7 linked regions of the Homo sapiens genome follow. The protein of the gene in region 7 interacts with the protein of the main gene of each other region in a biochemical or structural test. Each region holds a gene or a part of one and is shown on either strand. Other genes may lie near its edges.

Region 1 (3,500 bases), on a different chromosome or scaffold from region 7:
ATTGTCTTCATTTTGCTGCTGTTCTGCCTTTTCCTCTGTTTTCTTCTAAGTAAAACACTTTGTTCTCATTCTCCAACAACTCTCACCTTCCCTCTTTTTCTAATTTGCATTTCCATTTTGTTTTTCTGCCCAGCCCACTTTCCCATCCGTGGCCAAGGTGGACACCTCTTATTGACCCATTGTCCACTTAATTCCCCCAGGCAGAACCTTTGCTCCCTGGCGTCTGCAGAGCCTGGGGAACAGTACAGGCCTTCCAATGAGCAAAGCCAGGTGACAGCTGGGCCTCCAGCAAGGTGGGACTCTGCAAAGTTGTCCTGTCTAGTGCTGCTGAATGGGATAGGATTTCTCCTAGAAAGAAACCTCCACACATCGAAAAGAGAAGGGTGCAGAAGATGAATGTGCTGACCGTTTATACCTCCTGTTTGTTTATTTTTATCAGTTTCAGATATTTGTACATTTTTGGGATACGTGTGATATTCTGATAAATGCATAGAATGTATAATGATCAAGTCGGGATATTGAGAATATCCATCACCTTGAGCATTTATCATTTCTTGGTGATGGAAACATTCCAAACCCTCTTTTCCAGCTATTTTGAAGTACACAATACATTTTTGCTAACTGTAGTTACCCTACTCTGCTATCAAACATTAGAACTTATTTCTTCTAACTGTATGTTTGTGCCCATTAACCAATCTTTCTTCATCCACACCCGTCCCAGCCTCTGGTAACCGTTACTGTACTTTGATTAGATCAACATTTTTAGGTCTCACATATGAGTGAGAACATGCAATATTTGTCTTTCTGTGGCCTGGCTTATTTCACTTGACATAATGACCTCCAGTTCCATCCAGGTTGCTGCAAATGACAACATTTCATCCCTTTCATGGCAGAATAGTATTCCATTGTGTATATGTAACACATTTTCTTTATTCATTCATTGAAAGACACTTCTCATGATTTTGGTATAAAAACACATGAATCAATGAAACAGAATAGAGAACCCAGAAATCCACATATTTATAGCCAACTGATTTTCAACAAAGGCAGCAACATACACTGGGGGAAGGACATCCTCTTCAGTAAATGGTGCTCCGGTAAATGGAAAGACTGGATACTCATATGCAGAGGAATGAAACTAGGCCCCTGTCTCTCACCAAGTAAAAAAATAAACTCAAAATGGATTAAATACTTAAACGCAAAATCCAAAACTATACATCCTGTTTAAGGAAGTATAAGCCCCTTACAGGGAAACCTTCTTTTCATTGAAAATAAGCTGTTCTCTCTTTTCCTCTTCCCACCACCTTTTGGCCCTTGAAGATGATGGGGAGTAGAAGCATTGGTAGTAGAGTATCCCATTTCCAGGAGATGATCCAGATGGGATCACATGTCAAGTGGGGACCATTGTCTACTGAGAAGGCAGCTCAGGCCTCGGTCACTCCAGAGTCTCTTGTGGTGGTGGGGAAAGCAGGGACTAAGGTATAGGGCTGGTGGCCATGGAGACAGCATTTGGGGAGATGGAGGGAGAGGACGGCACAGATGATTCAATAAGAAGGGGCAGGAGTGCACCTTCCCTTCTCTGACTGGCTGTGGCTGCCCACGCAGGCCGCTGGCCTCACAAGCTCCTATTGTGATCAAACGATGGTTTCAGCAGTTCCATCTGACACATATGGTAATATGAGCAGGGGGTGCAGTGCTGCATGATAATCAGGCACCCTGGGCAGTTCCCATAAGTGACTGTAAGCATCACTTCTACCTGGCTGGGACAGGCATCCCGGGTCAGCCAGGGCAGACAAGGGCGGCCCTAGTAGAGCAGGAACCTGCCCTGTGGCTCTCAAAGATCTCTGCCTCTGTGACTGGAGCCCTGTCCTCCTTCCTCTGTAGGCCCCTCCTCACCAGAAGGAAGGGTCTGCTGCTGTTCCCCTCCTGTGCCCCGTCTCTCCCCACTCCCCGGCCAACTTCCTCCCTGGCCGGGGGCTGTCAGTGTCTGATGGTCAATGTCAGGACAAGAAGGGTGGTCTGGATCCCTCTACAGAGGGGTCTTAAGCCAAACTGCACCATATGTCTTTTTGTTTGCTCTGCTGGGGTTCCCCATGGGGTGGCTGGAGTGAGAGAGAGGAATGGAGGGGATGGGACCTGGACACCTTTTGAGGTATGTGGTCTCTGAGGTATTCTCCAAAGAGACCTGTGGGGTGTTTGTTTCTCAGGGTTGAGAAAAGATTGTCCAGGCAGGCTGCAGCAGCTGGTGTGCTTGCACGGGGTGTGGATGTGGTTTGCTTCAGGCACTTCCCTTTGACAGAGAGGGACGCCCAAGGATCCTCCAGGCTGTTCTGCAACCCCCTGGGAAGCACAGACCCTGGGGCAGAGGCAGGATAAATAGCTTTGCTCCTGTGTGGAGCCCCACTGGCAGGCTTAGGGCACAGGCTCAGATGTGGATGGGTGGAGAGAGGGCCCAGGGAGCTGTGGTGGGTGTTGGTGAAGGGTAGAGGGGTGGGTGGCATGAGCAGAGGGTCAGAAGGTTGAGCTCTAGAGAAGGGGTGATGGATGAGGAAAGTGTGCCCGGAGCTGGTGGGGGCTGGGGTGCGGTGGGCACGTGGAAGGGTAGGGGGCTTGAGAGCAGCTCTGGCTGCCTCTGCGTGCAGGAGGGCAGGGGTGGGAGCTGGGGAGGAAGCCAAGCCAGATGCTGAGTGGCCAACTGAGCCATGGCAACAGCTCTGCCCTCTCCCTTCTGCTAAAAATACTGCCTTTCCAGACAACCCTCTTCCTCCTGGAGCTGATGGGTTAGCCAGGCGTGGAACAGAGAAGGGCCTGACTCAGAAAGCGGGGCTGACCCGGGGGTGGAGGAGATGGAGTAAGTGCAAGAAAGGGGTCTGCTCTGGAGCTTAGAGGAGAGCAGGAAGTGTGGCTCTCCTCCTGCAGCCCTGCATGCAGGGAAAGCTAAGCCCAGGAGCCAGCTTAGAGTTGAAGGAACAGAACACCAGACCCCCCATGCTGTTAGCTTTCCCTCACCTGCAACCTCCTAGTGAGACCAGGAGAGCCTGGCAGGTGCAGCCTGACTACCCAGATCCAGCAGCCCATTTCTGTGGTTCTCAGCTCCTTGGAGAGGCTGAGTGATGCTGTGTTTGGAAGCTGGGAGTGCTAGACAGGTCTGGGTTCCAGTCTCTGTTCTACCGCTTACTAGCAGTGTGCCTTTCAGCAAATAGGAATAAAGATAGTACCTGTCTCAGAAGGTTGAGATAGATATATAGCTAGGCAGCGCTATGCCTGGCACAAAGGAGGCATAGAAGAAATGGCCACGATATTGTGATGATCTGTCCCTGTGCTTAGGATCTAAACTGCTGTGGCCTGTTTGTGCACACAAGGATAGAGTCACCACAGGGGATCCTCCCTCTGCAAAGATTGTGTGCTCCTATCTGAGAAGGGCAGGTTGCCTTCCTGCTCCTGGAGGGCCACTCCCTCTCTGCACCCACCCCAGGGCTGGGGTATACCCTGGCCCTCAG
Region 2 (3,500 bases), on a different chromosome or scaffold from region 7:
CTCTCCAGTAGCTGGGATTACAGGCACACACCACCATACCCAGCTAATTTTTGTACTTTTGATAGACACGGGGTTTCACCACATTGGCCAGGCTGGTCTCAAACTCCTGGCCTCAAGTGATCCGTCCGCCCCAGCCTCCCAAAGTGCTGGGATTACAGGCATGAACCACCATGCCCAGCCAATTTAATGTTATTTAGTATAACAAAGAAAAAAAAGAAATCTAAATGCCCAACAAAAGGTGAATAAGTAAATTATGATATAGCCATACTTTAGGAATAATGTAGAAAGGACCTTAAAGTATATTTTGGGCCAGGCGCGGTGGCTCACACCTGTAATCTCAACACTGAGAGGCCGAGACAGGTGGTCAGGAGTTCAGGACCAGCCTGGCCAAGATGGTGAAACCCCATCTCTACTAAAAATACAAAAAAATTAGCCAGGCGTAGTGGTGGGCACCTGTAATCCCAGCTACTTGGGAGGCTGAGGCAGAGAATTGCTGGAGCCCAGGAAGTGGAGGTTGCAGTGAGCTGAGATTGTGCCACTGCACTCCAACCTGGGTGACAGAGCGAGATTCCACCTCAAAAAAAAAAAAAAAGTATATTTTGTAGGAAATATAGACGTATCTCACACATTAATTCATAAAGACTAGAATGAAACACCAGTAATAAGTGTTTATCTCTAGATAATAGAATTACATGTGATTTTATTTTCTCCATAGTCCTTTGCATTTTCCTATTTTTCTACATGGAGCATGTATCACTTTTTTTAATAAAACAAAAAGCTTATATCTTTAAAAAGTTACTCTCTTCTCGTCTATGCTCCTAAAACATTTTGTACTTTGTTGACAGCCCCTGGCACACGCTGCTCTGTACTCTACCTAGTCAATACGTGTCTGCAGTTTCTTGAGTTCTGCTTGTATCCTTCCCCAGCTCCCAGCACTACACTTTGCACAGAGGAGGTGCTCGATGAACTGCACCAAAGCACTGCTGGGGTGAGAAGATGGTCACAGAAGGCAGAGGCCTCCAGACTCTTAACAGAACCCACCAACAACCATCCCTTGTACGTGAAGGGTCAGGTCAGACCCATAACAGAAAAGGACCTACTTCCTTCTACTACTTTGCTAAGAAACCTTTAGTTTTTTCTAGATATCCTGTTAATTATTAGAATTTTCTGGCCAGGTGCAGTGCAGCAGCTTAGGCTTATAATCGCAGCATTTTGGAAGGCCAAGATGGGAGAATCACTTGAGCCCAGGAGTTCAAGACCAGCCTGGGCAACATAGAAAGATCCCATCTCTATGCCTCAGGGATATCAATAACAAAACATAAAAGAAGAAATACAACATAAAAAAGAATATAACAAATTTTAAAAAGAGAGAGGCTCTGATCTCTATAAAAATAAAAGAAAAAAAGAATTTTCCTTGAGTTGCTTTTGTGTCGTTTGAATTAATTAATTTTATTTATTTATTTATTTATTTATTTATTTATTTATTTTGAGACAGAGTTTTTGCTCTCGTCACCCAGGGTGGAAAGCAATGGCATGATCTCAGCTCACTGGAATCTCTGCCTTCTGGGTTCAAGCAATTCTCCTGCCTCAGCCTCCCAAGTAGCTAGAATTATAGGCACCCACCACCATGCCCGGCTAATTTTTGTATTTTTGGTAGAAACAGGGTTTCACCATGTTGGCCAGGCTGGTCTTGAACTCCTGACCTCAGGTGATCCACCCGCCTCAGCCTCCCAAAGTGCTGGGATTATAGGCGTAAGCCACTGCACCCGGCCGATTTATTTATTTTTAACTTTAATTTTAGGCTCAGGGGTACATATGCAGGTTTGTTATATAGATGAATTACATGTCGTCGGGGTTTGGTGTAAAGATTATTTCATTACCCTGCTAATAAGCAAAGTACCCAAAAGGTAGTTTTTCTATCCTCACCCTCCTCCCATCCTCTAAACTCAAGTAGGCCCTGGTGTCTGTTGTTCATTTAGGGAAAAAAAAAAAAAAGAAGAAAGAGGAGGAGGGGGAAAAGGAGGGAAAACAGTCAACCAGTCTCTCTCTGGTTTTCTCTAAGAATTCATCCAAACTTCCCTCTGGGCATATGAGACTCACAAGACCCCCCAGTTGCCAGGGAGCTGGAGCCCTGCAATAGGAAGGATGAGTCAGGGCCTCCTCACCCCACCAGCTACAGCATACCCAGTTTAACTTCATGTTTTCCCCCTAATCTCTAGCACAGTGCTCAGAACATAGTAAACACCAATGTTTGTTGGATTAACAAGTGAATTTCACACTGCAATACAATTAGAACCTGGACCTAGAGCTTCCACTCTGGTTTTCCCCTTCCTCCCCACCACTCACCCTGTAGAGATTGAAGTAACTCCCATAAGGGTTGGCCTCCTCGTAAAGATCAAGAGGCTCCATGGGCCAGGGAAGTTCCACAGGGAAGGGCCTTTCCGGGGTTTGGGGTAGAACAGTTTAGAAATGTGTGAGCAAGAGGAAGGCTCTGTGAGGCCAACAACAGGCTGGGCTATGTCTAAATAGCCATCCTTGGCTGCACTTTCAGTGATGTCGATCAGCTGGCTCGGGTCCTCTGAGGATGGCAGAAAGTGGTAATGGCAGGGTAAGACAGGCTCGCTTTCACTCCCTGGCTCCCTCCCGCCCTCTCTGCAGAATTTCCGGTTCTACCTGCTCAGCTCCCCCGCCACCCCATCTTCCCAGTGCAAGGGAAGGTCGAGCCTTCCAGCGCAGGACTTACTTCAGGGGCCCAGCACCCACTTCCTGCCAGCCAGCTGCTTCCTCCTGTTCCGCCCCTACATTGTGAAACAAATGACGCAGCCGGACTTTAGACAGAAACCCTGCTTATCAGGGAGTCCAGGCAGATGAACTCTGGGTTCTCAATGCCAGGAAAACCCTAGTGTGTATCCACTCTCACAGTATGTGTTCACTCATACTGCTTTCCACAACCGTCACACAATAGTGAAACCTCATCCTCAATTATGTTGGACGCAAGGTCATCCAGGTCTTTCCTGAATCTCTGAAACAGAAACTGGTTTGAGTTTAGAGATCTCCAGGGTCTCTAGTCAAACCTAACAGATGTGATAAACAAGTCTCATTATTATCACATAAAATGTGCATGGCATTTAAATCTATTTTTGGGTGTGGTGGAAACGTGTGTTGCCCATTTATGTGTCCACAGAACAAGTGCAAATTGAACTCAGCTGACTTGGAGGGGGGTGGGATGTATCCTAACAGCCAAGGCCACAATCCCTAGAAACCAATATGGGCCAGGTGTAGTGACTCATACCTGTCATTCAGCATTTTGAAAGGCCAAGGCAAAAGGATCCCTTAAAGCCAAGAATTCAAGACCAGCCTGTACAACAGATGAGACCCTGTCTGTACTAAAAAAATAAAAAATTAGCCAGGTATGGCTCACCACTCACACTTGCCTATAGCCTCAGCTATTCAGGAGGCTAAGACTGGAGGATTGCTTGAACCCAGGAGGTCAAGGCTGC
Region 3 (3,500 bases), on a different chromosome or scaffold from region 7:
CTACTGGATGCTTCATTTTTTTTCTTTTTTTCCCTTTAAAGGGGCTTGGGACTCTAGGTGGCTGTTCTTCCAACCTCAGATATTTTCAACTCCGCTAGGACTCCTTTTCTTGTGAAACCTTGCCAACTCTTTGACCTTGAACTTGTTACTTCTCTAAGCCTTAGTTTCCACATCTCCAAAGTAGGAATATAAAAGCGCCCTCCCCCATGTTTATTTTAAAAACCAAGCCAGGTGCAGTGGCTCATGCCTATAATCCCAGAACTTTGGGAGGCCGAGGTAGGTGGATCACCTTAGGTCAGGAGTTCGAGACCAACCTGGCCAACATGGTGAACCCCTGTCTCTACTAAAAATGCAAAAAAATTAGCTGGATGTCGTGGCACATGCCTGTAATCCCAGCTTCTTGGGAGGCTGAGGCAGGAGAATCCCTTGAACCCAGGAGGCAAAGATTGCAGTGAGCCAAGATCAAGCCACTGCACTCCAACCTGGGTAACAAGAGCAGGATTCTGTCTAAAACAAGAAAAAAAAAAAAACAAAAAAACAGAAACAAACAAAAAAAAAAAAACAAAGAACAAATATATGTCACATGCTGAACACGAGACTGGGTACACAGTCTCTATAAACCAAAGATGCTGAGGAAGGTGGAGAATAATTGTTCCTCCCTCCTTGAACTGGGGTTCAGCAAAGAGCCCTCTCCACCTGCCCTGGCACCCAAGAAGTAGGAAAGGTGCCTCCTGAAGGCTCTGGGAGAGTTGACAATTCCAAATTTGGAGCCAGGGGAAGAGGCAGCCCTAGTTCCCTTCCGACCCTCCTGGGGTGCCACTGGAGAATGCTGACTCCAGCTTGGGGCCCCTCTCAACCGCTCCCCATTTGCCACACTCCATTTAGCTCTGGCAATCCAATTCCCTTTCCTCCACCCAGAAATCGATGTTTAATTAACACATTATTGGAAAAAATAAACACAGTCTTCAATGGGACTGCAATGAAGCTGATGCAGCTCAGCCTAGGGGCTGCAGACCATCCTCTCAGTCAGAAAACTGTTCTTCTCCTATTCCCTGCCTCTCCACCAAGAAAAAGTTCCTTCTTCCTCCCTGGAGTCCTCCAGCCTGGGGGATCCCGCTCATTCCCTCTGTGCATCCTCCCTGCCTGTATCTAGGCAGCAGACCTGGCATCCCTTCCCACCCTTTATCCTGTGACACAGATGTAGGGGGATGTTGTCAGTGCACATGTTCCTGCTCCACGGGGGAAGGAGGTAACTCCTTCTGAACATCCCGCCTCCACCAGTGAGGCTGTGCATGATCCCATCTCCTCCTTCTCTCCAGGCCAGAACCAGCACCCCTCCAGCTCAGGGGTCAGCAGGTGTCTTCCCCTGTGGGTGTGGGGTAGAGGCAGGCCTAGAGGTGGCTGATAAGGATGATGATCCCCAGAGTTCCTATCCAGACCTCAGGAGCTGATTGGAAGACCTCTGTCTAGAGTATTTCCTCTTTTACCCCCAGTTTTAGATGATCCAATTCCCAGCTCCTCTTCTCCATGATTCAGGATGGAGGGTGGTGCAGAGTCCCTGGATTCAGACCCAAGTGTGGACCCAGGATCTCACTGTGTAATCCTAAAAAAGCGATTTAACCCCTCTGATCACCAGTTTCCTCAACAGATAAATGAGGACACTACCCACCTAAGTGAAAAATAGCAGAGCATGATGCCCTGCTCAAAGCAGGTGCTGGATAATTGTCCTTTCACTGAAATCTCACGCTGAGGGCCAGTCCCTGCTGCAAGGGCCATGGGGAGTGTGGCTGTCCCATGCAGGTTTAGGGCGACACAGCAAAGCAGAGACAAATAGGCTTCAGGTTCTCTACCTTCTGCCCACCTATCACCACCCCAAATCACCTCAACTCCCTCCTCAGACAAGGTGCATGAAGCAAGGAAGAAGGTAACGGGGACACCTTGGGAAACAGAGTTTCCTTAGTGCCATGCAAAAGACAACCAGCAGCATTACTCCTAAGCAGCAGTGCTACAACCAGCAGCCCCCTCCTCCTAAGCCTGAAATGCCTCTAACTGACAGCAGCACCTTCAGCAAGTCCCAGAGCTGTGAGTCAGCTGACTGCCTGGCAAATGGGCCAGCTCTTAGAATCAAGTTTCCAGACTTGCGGAACCAGAGGACAGGCCCATGGAGGTGGTACGAAACAGTGGTTAAGACCAGAGGCTTCAGAGCAGAGCCAGGCCCTTTGGGTTTGAATCATGATGTCATCACTTCCTACCTGAGTGGCCTTGGACATGTTACTTAACCTCCTTAGGCTTCAGTTACTTCATTTGTAAGACAGAGATGATAACAGTACCCACCTCACAGGATTGTTGGAGGATTATGTGAGATAATGCATGTCAAGTGCTTAGCATAGTATCTGGCCCATAGTCAGGTCTCAAATATTGGCCAATCGAAGCTTTAGTAAAAGTAGTTGGGTTTACAGCCATACCACCCTGAACATGCCCGATCTCATCTGATCTCGGAAGCTAAGCAGGGTCTGGCCTGGTTAGTTCTTGGATGGGAGTAAGAGTAGTTGAGAGAGAAGTAGTAGTCATGTTGGTAGTAGGAATACTCAGAAGATCCAGGTTTTTATCCTTCAGAAAGTGGGGGTAAGTGAAAGTAGAGCTGGGGAAAGGCTGTACTCTCAGTCACCTTCCTGCCCTAAAATTGGATTTCTCTCTCTAGTATGCCCCCTTCCTCTCTCTATTCCTTTAAGAGAAAGTGTGTGATGTCGTCTTAAAGAAGGATGGCCATATATTTTATCATCCAAACCGGGACACTTTTGAGAGTTACTAATTACACTAGGACAAAGGCCTAAACAGACACTGTCTCCCCACACCAGGGCGTCTGGCTACACCATCTCAAGGTCATGCAGAAATGCATTCATGCTCTGCTTCAAGGTCTTGGCTAAAGGTAAGACTTCCTTGCTTCTCAGAATCCAATTTTCTCTGGCCCCACCCCACCCCTGAAAAAAAAAACACACATTCATACTTGTCTAGAATGTCTAATCCTTCTCCCATTCAAGGTCAAGACCAACCCTAGAGTGGAACAGAGACACTGGTAGAAGGCCTTCACCCATATTGTATGACATCATGCCCCCCAACCAGCCTCTGGAAACACAAATGAAGCACACTGGGGCCAATGTCTGGATTCATGCTTCCCTTCGTGAGAAAGAAGGCTAGGCCAGTCTAGGAGAAGTGACAGGCTCCCAGAGTCGTCAGCATCCAGATACCAGCTGCTTGGCTCTCTGAATGGAGCCTCTGCTGGACCTGAAAGTACCCTTGACGGGCAGGGCTATATGGGATTGAGAACCTTGAGCACCCCACTGGAATGGGGGTCCTCCTCCATTCCAGTTTCTCCTCCCCCAGGAAGGTCAGAAGACAACCTTAACCACCACTCAGCTGGAATATAGCCCACCAGTCTTCTTCGAGCCATGAAACCCTGACCTCTAGCTCTGCAAGTGTGCCTTCCTTAGAGACACACC
Region 4 (3,500 bases), on a different chromosome or scaffold from region 7:
AGTTTTGACATTCTATGACTGTTAACTTGTCATGTTTTAAATCTATTGTTAAATAGCCATCACGTATGAAAAGGGGTAAAGTATAACTGGAGAATGGGCCAGTTTATAAGAGGAAATGGAATGTTGTGGGGGGGGGGGTCCCAAATTTACATTCTCTCATGAATTTCACACAGCTTTTAATATATATATTATATGTACATACATGTATATACATAGACACATATAATATATAATAATCATATCCATCTTGGGTCAAGAAGAGAATAATTACCCCATTCCTCAATTTGAATTGTTTATATGTCTTTTTGCTCACTTATGTGACCCTTTATGTCTTCAATAGAAGTTGACATGCCAAAAGTGTTGGCTAAGCCTAGATACCTACTGTGAAATGAAAATTTTATGGAAATTCAAGACACCATAATGTATCTCCAACCACTAATAACTCTACATAAAATTAGCAAATAATTTGCCTTATTAATCTAAAAGCACACTTTTTCATATATCAGTGTTCACTTTATTGTTTTTCCATGTTAGGAAACTATGATATGTATTATCTAGGTCAAATAAATCATTATTTTTTTTTTGGAACGAAGTTTCTCTCTTGTTGCCCAGGCTGGAGCGCAATGGTGTGATCTCGGCTCACTGCAACCTCTGCCTCCCGGGTTCAAGCGATTCTCCTGCCTCAGCCTCCTGAGTAGCTGAGATTACAGGCGCCTGCCACCACGCCTGGCTAATTTTTGTATATTTAGAAGAGATGGGGTTTCACCATGTTGACCAGGCTGGTCTTGAACTTCTGACCTCAGGTGATCCACCTGCCTCGGCCTCCCAAAGTGCTGGGATTACAGGCGAGAGCCACCACACCTGGCCAGAAATTATTTTATACTTTGACATCTTGCTCAAAATAAAATGAAAACACCTGACCTGGGGAGGAAAAACTGTGCTTAGTTTCATTTTAGAAAAGGCCAAAAAAATGAGAAGAAAAAGAACATCAGGGTTTGACTTACCCAACATACCTGCTCTATGTTCAACAAGTGAAAACAAAGGCAGTTTGCAGCCCATAAAAAATATTTTTTAAGATAGAAAATTCTCCTAAAACAAAAAGTAGTTGTGAACTACCAGGCATGCATCTAAAAAAAAAGACCTGAGAATCCAAAGCTGACAACCTATCTAGCCATCTCCTTTTGGCAGAGGGATGCCCAGTTAATCTCCAGCTTGGACTTGTCTTTGCCCAGAATGCCTGCCTATTTCTTTCCAGAGTTATTTTGGCTTTTAAAGAATATATGGAATGTTTCATTCTGTAGACCAGACCCTTCGTCAAGGAGAATTATGGCCATTAAAAAAAGAGGTTTGAGGACCAGAAAAATATAGCTGTCTCTAATACTTTTTAAAAGGATATATGTCTAGATTCCATTTGAGACAAGGATTTATTTCTGCTGCGTAAGCAGAATGTCAAGGTACCGGCCAATGGCCTCCTCGTGAAGCTTTCTCCATCTAGTCAAGAATGCATTGGTATTTCCTGCCTTTGAACTCTTCAAATGCTGATACTCTGAGTCACCCAATTATGTCTTCAACTATGTAGTGTCATGTATGCCACAATGCCTTTGCCCATGCCTTTCTCTCTACCTGTTATGCCACCGTACCCCTCTCTTGTCCAACTGCCTAATTCTAGTCAACTCCAGTGTTAACAACACTATGAATCCTATTCTGACTGTGATCAGGAGAATTATGGGGATTCTTCCTTTAGACATGAATTATGCTTTGAAAATGACTCTACTGTGCCCTATCGCTTTGTGTTATAATTGTATCATTTAGGTATCATTTTCCTACTCCCAGTGGGAAAGGCACAGTTAATATGTTGGGGGGAAGATACACACATACATTCCAAACAAATACTGCCCCCACTCTGCCCAGATCCCCTCAGGACCTTCACTGGGAAGAGTGTCGGTTGAAGTGTTCCTGTGAGTGGTTTATTACCACTTGCTATTAATGCTGCTGTCATCTATATTCATCCACAAATGTAGAAAAATCTGGTTGCTATGGAGACCACTGTTGCTTTTGCTTTATGTTAGAAAAGGGCTTCCTATAAGGTCTCCTAACTGGTTTTCCTAGAGAAGGAGATGAATTAATGTTAACCTTCATTAGACCTTGTCTCTTTAATACAATCTCCCTTCCAAGCACAGGTGCTTCAGAAAATCTCATCCTGGCAAAATAGGATCAGAATGTAATGTACTAATTCCTAGTTATTATTTTTTTGGAAAGTTCACTGCTGTGGTGAAAACTCTCCCAAACCCCAATGATAGCTATGTCTAAGAGCCCTCACCACCGCATGGCACCCAATCTCATGACACCCTCTCCTTTCATTTCTCCTGCCACTTCCAAACATGGGGCTAGATGATCAACTGTTTTTTGGTTTTCCTTATAATCCCCTCAGCCTTCCCTTCATCCCATCTATGGAAATCCTACTTATTTTTCAACCCTAACCTTATCTCCTCTATGAAGGCTGTCCTGCCTAGTTCAGCTCACAGTGACTCTTGAGAAACTCTTCCCAGACTCTCATATAACCAATTATTGTATTCATAGGACATCTGTGATGACCCCCATCTGATTGTGGGCAACATTAGCAACCACCAGCTGACCCAAGGGAGACTGGGGCACAAGCCAATGGTTTCTGCATTTTCCTGTTTGGCTGTTCAGGAGTCTCATTGGACAAAGGTATTATCCCTCCTGTGGGACCTCATTCAGTTTCCACTTTCTTGTCTTCTTTAATAACTTTAGGAAAAAAATCAGCGCATAACTTCCTTAGATTGTTGTATTTCTTGAAAGCAGAGATATTAACTAGGCGACTTCCCTCCATTTCATTATAAGAAGTTTTGCAAACACAGAAAAGTTGAAATAATTTTATAGTGAACACTCATATACCCACCTAGATTCTACCATTAACATTTTACTCTACTTGCTTTGTCATATATGCTCACTGATCTTTGGTTATCATTTGCCGTGCATTGACTCAGTATCTCTGCATATTATGTTATCTGTACCTATTGGGGTATAAAGTCAGTAGAAGCCAGGAAGTCAATAATACATATTAATAACAAAAAAGGTGAGAAATACAGAAGTAGGACTTGAAAAGTTCTAATAAATTATTAATAGTACAAAAATTCCTTTAGCATTCAGGTAGAGGTCAAGGCAATGAAGTGTTAACTTGACTTGGGACAAAGTTAAAACATTTTCCTCAAAAAATAATTTTAGAATATTAATGTGTAGCTGTTATACAAAAAAAATTCCTAAACATGATTTTATTCAAAATGCAAATGAAATCCATATTTAATATAATTGATATAAAATCTCTAGAATGGATATTTAAAAAGCAAACTACAATGGGCCTTGATTTTGATTGGTTTTGCTCTTTAGAATGCCTTGCATTTTAAACATGCAATCATGAATATGTTTATATAGTCCGCTTCTCAACATCTAGTTTATAGATTATTTGTGGAAAGCAT
Region 5 (3,500 bases), on a different chromosome or scaffold from region 7:
AAGGGATGCTCAGTGTATACTGTGTATTGTGGTACACAATTATGTACTGAAAGAAACCTTTCTTGAAACAATATCTACCTCTTATATGTGATACATTTTGATATATTCTATTTCATTAAAAATAATGTTGGTCATGATTTCAGAATTGATTTTATTACTCATTAATGGGTGGGGACCTCCATTTGAAAAACAATGCTCTAGGGGGACTTTTGAAGTTCCCAAATTGATGGAGGTTATAGAACAGTTTAATCTCCTCTAACATCGAGGGAGTTTGATGTTAGGGGAATCTGGGTGAAATGATCACTTCTCCTTTCTCAGATTGACTGGATGGTTCCTGAGGCTCACAGACAGAACTGTAGGAAGAAAGGCAAGAAAGAGGTAGGTGTAAATCTGAGCCCTGTCTTGAGTGTCAGTTGAGACCTTGGCCCAGCCCTGACTCTCAGTCCCCTGTAATGCTTCCATACCAATGGGCCCAGGCAGAGACTCTAACACCATGCCATCACCCATCATCTCTGATCCCAAAGCTGCATCTAACTGTCCTGACGTTACCTTACCCTTCCTCGTACCTGCTGCTTCTGATTCTTTCTAACCGTCTCTGACCCCCAGGACGAATGTCACAATTTTGTCCAGATTCTCGCCATTGCCAATGCCTCTCACCTCCTCACTTGTGGCACCTTCGCTTTTGATCCGAAGTGCGGGGTTATTGTGAGTGACGGTGTGGGAGGAGAGGGAGAGGGTGCCTGCACCAGTGTGAGTTACTTGGGGTGGTGGTGGGAGGATGGGAAGGGTTTTCTGTGAGCGACCATGATGGGGGCATGGTCAAGGCAACCATTGTGCATGATAAGCATTGGGTGTAGGGGCTGTCCTCATGGGATGAGGGTATGTGTAAGCCACTGAGGGAGGGAAAGGGAGGTTGTCTGGAGAGGGTAAGATATACAAAGTGTGAAGAGAGACATAGTGGGATAGTTAAGGAAGTTAGGGATGCTGGTTGGGCTGGGGAAACAACAAATCCAGGGAGAGACTTCAGAAACCAGAAACTCATGTTTCCCTTGCCCTGTGTATGCTTTGTCCAGGCAGCCTGTGTCCATTTCTTAATTAGTACAGCCCATTGCCTGTTTCTTCCTTTCACAGCATGTGACTGTCTCTTACCACCTTCTCCTACTTCCACTGCCAACCTCATTGTATATGGGCTGTGAGTCTCTCCTCTCATGGCTTCTGATGTCACTTCCACTAATGTAATATCTGCTGGCCCCATATTCTGGATCTTGCCTTCAGGGCGGGCACTCTGTCAATCATGTTTTCTTATAGATCCTGTTTATTGCTGCTGAAGGCCTGGACATCACCAGCCTCAAACACAGGCAGGCTTGGGACATGTGTATCCTAATCACATCTAGGCTAGTCATGATCTCTGGGACTGATGACTGTTTCTGAATTCTCAGCTTTTCCCATCTGTTACACAGTAGTCAGCACTGGTCTTTTGGCAGCTCACATTTGTGACAAGCCCCTGGCGTGAGTCAGAAGCCTCACATATCCTTTATATCCAGTGGCTTCTCTTTCTGCTCTGTAGAGCAATAGGAGGGAGTATAACTGCTCCCTTTTTTGACCTCATCCTTAACTGTAGATCTTGTCTTGACTCTTCTGCAGTCCTCAGTAATCCCTGCCACCTGGATCAAGTCAGTGTGTATCTCTAAACCCCTCTTTGTTACATACCACCCTCATATCTCTGGCTTAGGATGCTAATCATAATCATATGCATGATTGCTCCAGTTAGTCCCCCTGGGCTGCCTTGGGGTGGGTTGGACTTATGTTAAGTCCTTTTCATAATGCAGGTGATACACACTCCCTACCAGCATCTGGATAGCTCCCTCATTCTGGAAAGGTTCGCAGTTCAGGGTGTTGGTGAAAATCTCTGTATTCCCTCAGGTAACATTGAGGTCTAATTTCCCTACAGTTCTCCTTAAGTTTATAAGGTAGCAATGGTACTGCCATTGCCATATTTGTCCTTTTCCATTCTGCCAGGCTTGGGGATCCCATGGGTATGAATCCCAGAGCCATGGCTTATAGACAGTGTGATTGTTCTAAGTTAGTCTCCTAGGGCCTTTAATTCTTCCTTGTTTCTCTGAGGTGGGACTCTAGTGGTTGTTACATAAGGTATCTAGACAGAAAATGTTCTTTCTGGACATACCTGTCAGGATTGGTGTGACTTGGATGCCTATCTCTTCTTGAGGAACATCAGCAATGAAGAGTGAAGCCAGGGGTCTGTGTCCTGAGCTCCCAAGAATTCAGCTCTTTTCCTGAACTCTCCTGTCTAGCAGGCTTATGAAATGAGGGCCCATCCTTTGGTCAAGGCTTGTTTGAAGGAGAATATAGAGACTAGCCGCAAGAGGTCAACTCTGGTAACCCTTTGAGCCACATCCTGTCTGCTCTGTAGACGTTTTGAAAGTTCTCTTCTGCCTTAACCTGTCTTATCCTACTACCCAGCAGCCCCAGTCTGCTTGACCAAGTTCTTCCTTTATCCTCACTGCTGAACCTCTCATGTCCTAGACTGATGACTTTGAGACTGTATATAAACAATTATCTGAGAGCTTTGTTCCAGACATAGCAACTTGATCAAAGTTGATTGTGGAGAAATGAAGGTTCTTACATAAAGGAAATTCCAGCATTGGATCTAAGGGCTCCCACTGTGGAGTGCTGTCCTTCAGTGATAGCTCATTGGACATTGGAGGAAAATATCCTAATTTGTTTTGTTGAGGGACCTCTAGCAGTTAACAGAGAAAAATGTTAGACTTCTAACAACAACAACAACAAACAGCAACAATGACAACCATTCAGTTGAGTGTCTGCTCTGATGAAGACTTGGTATTAGGTACTTTACATTAAGGATTAAGTTTAATTCTTATCACCACATCATGATATTTAGGTATTATTTCCATTTTACAAGTAATGAAACTGAAGTTCAGAGAAATTAAGTATTGTCTCTAAGACTGAATAGCTAGCAGAGGCAGAACCAAAATTTAAACCTGTGTTTGTCTCTGGCTCTGTTCCACTATCCTGTCCCTCTAGTCTAGCCTGCAGCCCAGAAGACCTTATCTGTCTTCAATTTCTTGTGGCATTTGATGTGTTTCATGTACTAGGAACCATCTTTCTTTTCTTTGCTTTTTTTCTTAGCCACCTGGGAAAGGTCCTTCCTATGCCTTAAACTCCTCTTGGCCAAGGCCAAAGGACCAGTTCCAACCCATAGCTCAGAGAGAGCCTTCCTGTCCAGCTCCAGCTTTCAGCTTCAGGGACTTTGCTTTACCACAGCTGATTCTCAGAGACTATGCTGCTGACTAACACAATGATGATACAATGAAGAATCTCAACATTCAGATAGATAATATAGTGGAGTGGTCATGTCTCTTTCAGACCCGAGTTAAATGTCATTTTGACCATGCAATAATCATAACCTATCTAGTTAATAGGAGGCTCACCTCTTCAAAGGTTAGAAACCTGGATGATAT
Region 6 (3,500 bases), on a different chromosome or scaffold from region 7:
ATTTGTGGCACATAGCTAAAGCAGTGCTGGGAGGGAAATTTATAGCACTAAATGTTTACATTAGAAAAGAGGAGCATTTCCCACAGTGTGATGATTTCACACTGCATGCCTGTATCAAAACATTTCATGTACCCCACAAATATATACACCTACTATGTACCCACAAAAATGTTTTAAAATAAACTGCTATTAATTGTTTAAAAAGAAAAAGAAAAAGAGGGAGGGTTTCAAATCAAGACTCTAGACTCCCACTTGACTGTAGTAAAAGGAAAGCATAATAAATCCAGAGCAAGCGGAAGAAAGGAGATAATAAAGGTAGGAGAAGAAATAGGTCAAATCAAAACAGAAAAATAATAGAGAAAATCAATGAAAGAAAGAGCTTTTTCTTGGACAAGATTAATAAAATTCACCTTTTTTTTTTGAGACAGAGTCTTGCTCTATTGCCCAGGCTAGAGTGAAGTGGCATGATCTTGGCTCACTGCAACCTCTGCCTCCTGGGTTCAAAACATTCTCCTGCCTCAGCCTCCCGAGTAGCTGGGATTACAGGTGTCTGCCATCATGCCCGGCTAATTTTTGTATTTTTAGTAGAGATAGGGTTTCATCATGTTGGCCAGGCTGGTCTCAAACTCCTGACCTCAACTGATCCTCCTGCCTCAGCTTGCAACATGCTGGGATTACAGGTGCGCACCACCACACCGGGCTAATTTTTGTATTTTTAGTAGAGACAGGATTTCACCACGTTGGCCAGGCTGGTTTCGAACTCCTGGCCTCAAGTGATCCACCCATCTCAGCCTCCCAAAGTGCTGGGATTATAGGCATGAGCCACTGTGCCCAGCCTAAAATTGGTCTTTAGAATCTCTACAAAAACTGACAAAGGACAAATGAGAGAAGACACAAACTATCAATGTCAGGAAGGAAAATGGGCTATCACTACAGACCCTGCAGACATTAAAATGACCTTAAGGGAATACCGTAAATAACTCAGCTCACATAAATTTGATGACTTAGATGAAGTGGACCAATTCCTCAAAAAGCGCAAACTACCATGATCCACCTAATGGGAAACAGATCATTTGAATCACATGAGAATCACACTATAACTATTTATCAGATTGAATTTGCAATTTTGAAGCTCCCTGCTAAGAAGTCTCCAGGCCCTGATGTGGAGAATTCTAACTTTAAAAGAAGAATTAACACAAATTCGACGCAACTTTATCCGGAAAACAGAAAAGGAAATAACACTTCCCAGTTAATTTTAAGCACCTAGGTATTACCCTGCGACCAAACTAGACAAAGACAGCATGAAAAGACAACTACAGACGAATATCCCTCATGAACACAGACTCAAAACCTCTCCCAAAATATCAGCAAATAGAATTCTGTGATAAGAAAAAAATTATACACCTTGAACAAGGATTCCAGGAATGCATTCAGTATAATCCACCATATTAACAGGGTAAAAAGAAAAATCACATAATTATATCAATTGATGTAGAAAACGCTTTTGACAAAATTCAACACCCATTCATAATAAAATCTCGTTGGAAAATAGAAATAGACGGAAATCTCTTAATGTGATTAAAAGCATCTACAAAACACCAAAGTTTACATTATACTTAACGGTGAAAAACTGAATGTTTTCTCCCTAAGATCAGGAAAAAGAAAGATGTCCACTCTCATCACTCTCATTCAGAAGATGACTGAAAGTTTTAGCCAGTAAAATAAAGCAAGAAAGAAATACAAAATACAGGGAAAGGAAAGACTTGCAAGCAGGAAATGAAAAAATAAAACTATCCCTACTTGCAGATGAGATTATTGTCTACATACAAATTCTCAAAGAATCTACAAAAAAAAAAAAAAAAAAACCTCCTCGCACTAATAAGTGAGTGCAGCAAGGACACAGGATACAAGATCAACACACAAAAGTCAATTACATTTCTATATACTAGCTATGAATGGTTGAAAACCAAAATTAAATGAAAAACGAAATATGTAGTTGTAAATCTAATAAAACATGTACAAGACTTACGCACTGAAAACTACAAAACACTGATGAACTAACTCAAATAAAGTCTAAATAATAAAGAGGCATATTGTGTTCATGCATTGGAAGATTCAACATAGTAAAAATGTCAATTCTCCCTAAATTGATATACAGGTTTAATGCAATTCCTATCAAAACCCTAGTAAGATATTTTTGTGGGCATAGACAAGATTATTCTAAAATTTATATAGAAAGGCAAAAGAACTGGAATAACTCAAACAAGTTTGAAGAAAGATAATAAAGTGTAAAGAATCAGTCTACCTAACTTGATAACTTATTATATAGCCAAAGTAATCAAGACTGTATTGTCAGAATAGACACAGACATGAGTAGAACAAAATAATTAAAAAAAAAAACATAAATCAATCTGCACAAATATACCCAACTGATTTTTTTTTCTTTTGAGATGGAGTCTTGCTCTGTCACCCAGGCTGGAGTGCAGTGGCACGATCTCAGCTCAGTGCAACCTCTGCCTCCTGGGTTCAAGCAATTCTCCTGCCTCAGCCAACTGATTTTTTGACAAAGGTTGAAAGCAGTTCTGTAGAGAGAGTGTAGATGTTTCAACAAATGATGCTGAAACAATTGACTTCCGCAGGCAAAAGAAAAAAGAAAAAAAAAACCTTGACCTAAACCTCACATCTTACTTATATAGAAATTAACTCAAAATATTTAAAACAGTCTTAAATGTGAAATATAAAACTGTAAAAGCTTAGGGGAAAAAAAGCACAGGAGAAAATCTTTAGGACTTCTAAAGTGGGAAAGAGTTCCTAGACTTGAAACAAAAAGTATGAGCCATAAAAGGAAAATATAATAAAATGGACCTCATCGAAGTTAATTTTTTTTTTTTTGCTCTGTGCAAACCCCTGCTTATAATAAGAGAATAAAAAACTAGCTACAGATCTGGAGAAAGTATTCACAAACAACATATCTGACAAGGGACTTATATTTAAAATCTATACAGAACTATGAAAATTTAACAGTTAAAAAAAAACCAACAACAATCCAATTAGAAAGTGTGCAAACACATGAAGCAAGTTATCACCAAAAACGGTATACAGCCAGCAGATAAGCACACGAAAAGGTGTTCAACATCTTTAGCCACCTGGGAAATATAAATTAAAGCCACAATAAAATATCACTTCACACCTGTCAGAATGGCTAGAATAAAAAATAGTGAAACAGCAAATGCTGGCGAGGATCTGGAAACACTGCCCACGTTGCCAGGATCCATTTCGGTGTGGATGTGAAGTGGCACAGCCATTCTGGAAAAAAGGGTGGCCATTTCTTAACAAATCAAACATGGGACTATTATTCAACCCAGCAACTGCACTCCTGGGCATTTATTTCACAATGAAAACTTACGTTCACACAAAAGCTTGTACATGAATGTTTCTAAAGCTTTATTTGTAATAGTCAAAAATTGGCATCAGCCCAGATGCCCTTCAACAATGAATAT
Region 7 (3,500 bases):
TTCAAAAAGAAAAACAAATAATATAGGTGGATAAAAGATGAAAACAGACTGCCAGAATTTGTTAGTGACTGACTAATTTTTAAGGATAGTGAAACCAAGGATCAACTAGTATCACAAGCGGCAGTTACATTATCAGAAGATAAGAGAAAAGCTCAAAATTTGCATGATTTTTTTTTAACCTCTGTGAGTTACCTTGTATGAAATGCTATATGGTAAACCCAGAGTTGACCATAAAGTGATCCTTTTTTTCCTATTCATTCCAATTATACATTGATATTGACTGGGGTTCTCAATTTTTTTTAACTTGCCTCATTTTGATGATAGTGAATGATGATACAGTTTACAAAGAATACAGTCTTTAAATACGGGAGTAAGTTATCTTGAATTTAAATAGACTCTTCCAACTTATCAGCTGAGAGATCATATGATTAAGATCTAGAATAAGACTGCCTGGATTTAAATCCTACCCCTGATGCTTAAGTCACTGTGTGACCTTAGGGAAATTATTTAGCCTCTCTTTGCCACTGTTTCCTTATTTTTAGAATGGTGGTGATGATAATAGGACACATTCATATGGTTGCTGAGATTAATGCATGTAGTATGTTTAAAATAGTATCTGCCATATGGTATGTGCTCAGTGAATTATTGTTTTCTCATCTATAAAACTGGGGAAAATACTTGTGTACCTGTGTCTTAAGATTAGATGGTGATGCTAATAGCTCACATTAAGTAAATGTTTATTACTTGGCAGGCATTCTTCACATGCATTATCTCATTCAATCCTCCAAACAGCCACTATGTGTCACAGAACAAGTCATCTGAAGGAGTTTTAACAATGACAGTCTACTGCCTGAGAGAATGCCTGACACATAGTAGGTGCCTGTTACACAGAACTCCTCTGAACTATTACTTAAAGCTGAAATCCACATCTAAGTTCTTATTCTCCCTGTTTATTTTGCAAAAATTCAGGTCTGATGCCCTCTGTATAGCGGGTAGTTGTACAACATAGGTTGCACTGATAAAGATCTGGTGTTATTTTTAACCACAAACAAGGCAGAGTGTAAACTACCAAAGGAAAAAAAGCACACTTTTCCTATGGTGTAACGTTTTAATACTTTGAATTGGATATAATGGAAATGACTAAATTAGAACATAATTTGCATAAGTTTACATTTAATGTAGGCATTCCTGAGTATTAAAAGAGAACTTCGTGCCCCTTTTTTGGTTATAATAAATAGGCATGAAAAGTGAGAACACAGTGAAGAAAAAACTGTGTTAATGATAAGAAAATACTTGAGCAACTGCTACTTCATCATTGCTAGATTTGCTTGATAAAGTTTATAGTTATACATACTTTAAAAACTATCTTTACTATTGAAATTCCTACTGTGAAAATACCTTGATGATCATAAGCTGTAAATTCTCAAATCCCTAAACACTGTTCTGCATGAAAAAGAAATGCTGGGCCGGGCGCGGTGGCTCACGCCTGTAATGCCAGCACTTTGGGAGGCCGAGGCGGGCAGATCACAAGGTCAGGAGATAGAGACCATCCTGGCTAACACGGTGAAACCCCATCACTACTAAAAATACAAAAAATTAGCCGGGCATGGTGACGGCTGCCTGTCATCCCAGCTACAGGGGAAGCTAAGGCAGGAGAATGGTGTGAACCCGGGAGGCAGGGCTTGCAGTGAGCCAAGATCGCGCCACTGCACTCCAGCCTGGGCAACAGAGCAGGACTTCGTTTCAAAAAAAAAAAAAAAAAAGCTGACTTATGATTTTTGAAAATGCAAGTTTTCTTAGAAACTAACTATTGTGTGACAGTAGGCTATTCCATATTCTTGACTGTATAGTTCTCTTAACAAAAATCATCAGTATCACTCTGCATTTATATAGTTATTTATACTGGTAAGTATTTTTACTGTAACTTAAGCCCTACAACAATCCTGTCTTTGAAAGATGGAAATGGATCTGGAATAACTTGGTCACAAACAACCAGGACTAGGAATGTAGTTCATTGCTTCTGAGAAGGTATACAGCATATATAAATAACCTATTTTTCTAGTTCAGTGATGGTGATTTTCCAATGTGTGAAAATAATATAAAACAGGTATGTTTGAGTTTTCCTTTTCATCAACTGTTTTACATGAAAATAGCACATTATAATTTTTTTATAAAAATGATATATCATATTCCTTAGATCTTTGTAAGAAAGTGTTGTGAAAGGGTCAGATTTCTCCAGCATTCCTTTGAACACCCACCTCTTCGTTTAGGTTGCTGCTCTCCTGGATCGTCTTGATCCAAGCTAGCATATCATCTCTGTCTTCAGCCTGAAACAGGCATTCACAGTCGGACGTGGTGAGTCGAAACACATTTTTCCTCTTGGTCTCACTGTAAGAGATGTCTATCAAGCAAGCATTAACACTGATGGGCTGCTCTTCCTCAGACGGAGTCGTCTGCTCTCTTTTATCTTTGTACAGGTAAAGTGAATGACCCCGAAGGACAACATACATCTGTTTCCATGGCCGAATACTTCCACCAACTCGCTAGAAAACATGCGACAGTTCTTTAATAGTCAATATTTGGCTAAATCTTTGTGACAGGATAAGCACATTAAGCAACACCCTTCCTCTGCATTTACATATAACTAGTGTAGCAGGTGGCAGATTTAGCTCACTACATTATTTGTGAGGAGAGGAAGGATAAAAATTGTGGAGCATAAACTGAGTTAGGCAGTGTATTCATATCAAAGTCAAGGACTGTGAAATCCCAACTTTAGTTGGGAAGGCAATATGAACAAAGCTAATCAAATAAAATAAATGTAGCAAAACATATCAAAAACAGTAACGGAATAGAAAATTTAAAAATCGGTCCAAAAAACCTGTTGAGTGAAAGACTTACGTCTTAGAGCACACAAATGACAGATACTGCAGGAGTTCTCCAACAATTGTATACATAACTAATTAACAGAGTTCATCAACTTTATATGGCTAAGCAACTCTATCCACATCCAAAGTGAGCTTTCTTAAAATTTTTAAACTCTTCTGACAGCATTAAAATGTTCTTATATATAAGCTGTCCAAATATTATAGAAAATTTTTATGGCAAAGTCTTTTTCTGTTGAAATCTACTGGATGCATATATTGATATTTTTATATTTGTTTAACTTAATATTTTTAAAATAAAATGAAACAAAGTTATAAAGGTAATTTAAAATAAACTAAGAAAAGAGACATAAAAATTTAAAACTGATTTGCCACTTCCTAAAGGACAACGGAATAACCCATTGCTAATAAACTAATAAGAAAAGCAGAGTTCCTTTTTAAATACTTAGATTTCCTTTTTACATTGCCAAAACGTAAGACAATATATTCTACATGTAGCTGATACACAGGACAAAAAGTACCAAATTAATGCAATAATTAGAATTTTTTTAAGGAATACTTTTTTTAATGTAGAAAAATCTATTTATAAATGGTTTTTTTTTTCACTCTTTAATCTGG

What was found.
Region 1: the proteins of ARHGAP21 (region 7) and TMEM178B interact in a test that uses a peptide from one of them, tested with the Homo sapiens proteins (one large-scale study listed by IntAct).
Region 2: the proteins of ARHGAP21 (region 7) and F11R interact in a test that uses a peptide from one of them, tested with the Homo sapiens proteins (one large-scale study listed by IntAct).
Region 3: the proteins of ARHGAP21 (region 7) and NRXN3 interact in a test that uses a peptide from one of them, tested with the Homo sapiens proteins (one large-scale study listed by IntAct).
Region 4: the proteins of ARHGAP21 (region 7) and CAPN6 interact in a test that uses a peptide from one of them, tested with the Homo sapiens proteins (one large-scale study listed by IntAct).
Region 5: the proteins of ARHGAP21 (region 7) and SEMA4F interact in a test that uses a peptide from one of them, tested with the Homo sapiens proteins (one large-scale study listed by IntAct).
Region 6: the proteins of ARHGAP21 (region 7) and ZNF831 interact in a test that uses a peptide from one of them, tested with the Homo sapiens proteins (one large-scale study listed by IntAct).

Annotation. Positions count from the first base shown.
Region 1 is NC_000007.14:141,434,064-141,437,563, forward strand, and holds part of TMEM178B (transmembrane protein 178B precursor), read left to right. Parts: intron 1-3,500.
Region 2 is NC_000001.11:161,011,153-161,014,652, forward strand, and holds part of F11R (junctional adhesion molecule A isoform 1 precursor), read right to left. Parts: intron 1-3,500. UniProt on the Homo sapiens protein: Seems to play a role in epithelial tight junction formation. Appears early in primordial forms of cell junctions and recruits PARD3.
Region 3 is NC_000014.9:78,176,873-78,180,372, reverse strand, and holds part of NRXN3 (neurexin 3), read right to left. Parts: intron 1-3,500. UniProt on the Homo sapiens protein: Neuronal cell surface protein that may be involved in cell recognition and cell adhesion. May mediate intracellular signaling. Functions as part of a trans-synaptic complex by binding to cerebellins and postsynaptic GRID1.
Region 4 is NC_000023.11:111,253,484-111,256,983, reverse strand, and holds part of CAPN6 (calpain-6), read left to right. Parts: intron 1-2,580; coding exon 2,581-2,712; intron 2,713-3,500. UniProt on the Homo sapiens protein: Microtubule-stabilizing protein that may be involved in the regulation of microtubule dynamics and cytoskeletal organization. May act as a regulator of RAC1 activity through interaction with ARHGEF2 to control lamellipodial formation and cell mobility.
Region 5 is NC_000002.12:74,657,247-74,660,746, forward strand, and holds part of SEMA4F (semaphorin-4F isoform 1 precursor), read left to right. Parts: intron 1-318; coding exon 319-378; intron 379-606; coding exon 607-705; intron 706-3,500. UniProt on the Homo sapiens protein: Probable cell surface receptor that regulates oligodendroglial precursor cell migration. Might also regulate differentiation of oligodendroglial precursor cells. Has growth cone collapse activity against retinal ganglion-cell axons.
Region 6 is NC_000020.11:59,166,821-59,170,320, reverse strand, and holds part of ZNF831 (zinc finger protein 831), read right to left. Parts: intron 460-3,500; exon of another isoform or gene 1-459.
Region 7 is NC_000010.11:24,598,388-24,601,887, forward strand, and holds part of ARHGAP21 (rho GTPase-activating protein 21), read right to left. Parts: intron 2,544-3,500; coding exon 2,259-2,543; intron 1-2,258. UniProt on the Homo sapiens protein: Functions as a GTPase-activating protein (GAP) for RHOA and CDC42. Downstream partner of ARF1 which may control Golgi apparatus structure and function. Also required for CTNNA1 recruitment to adherens junctions.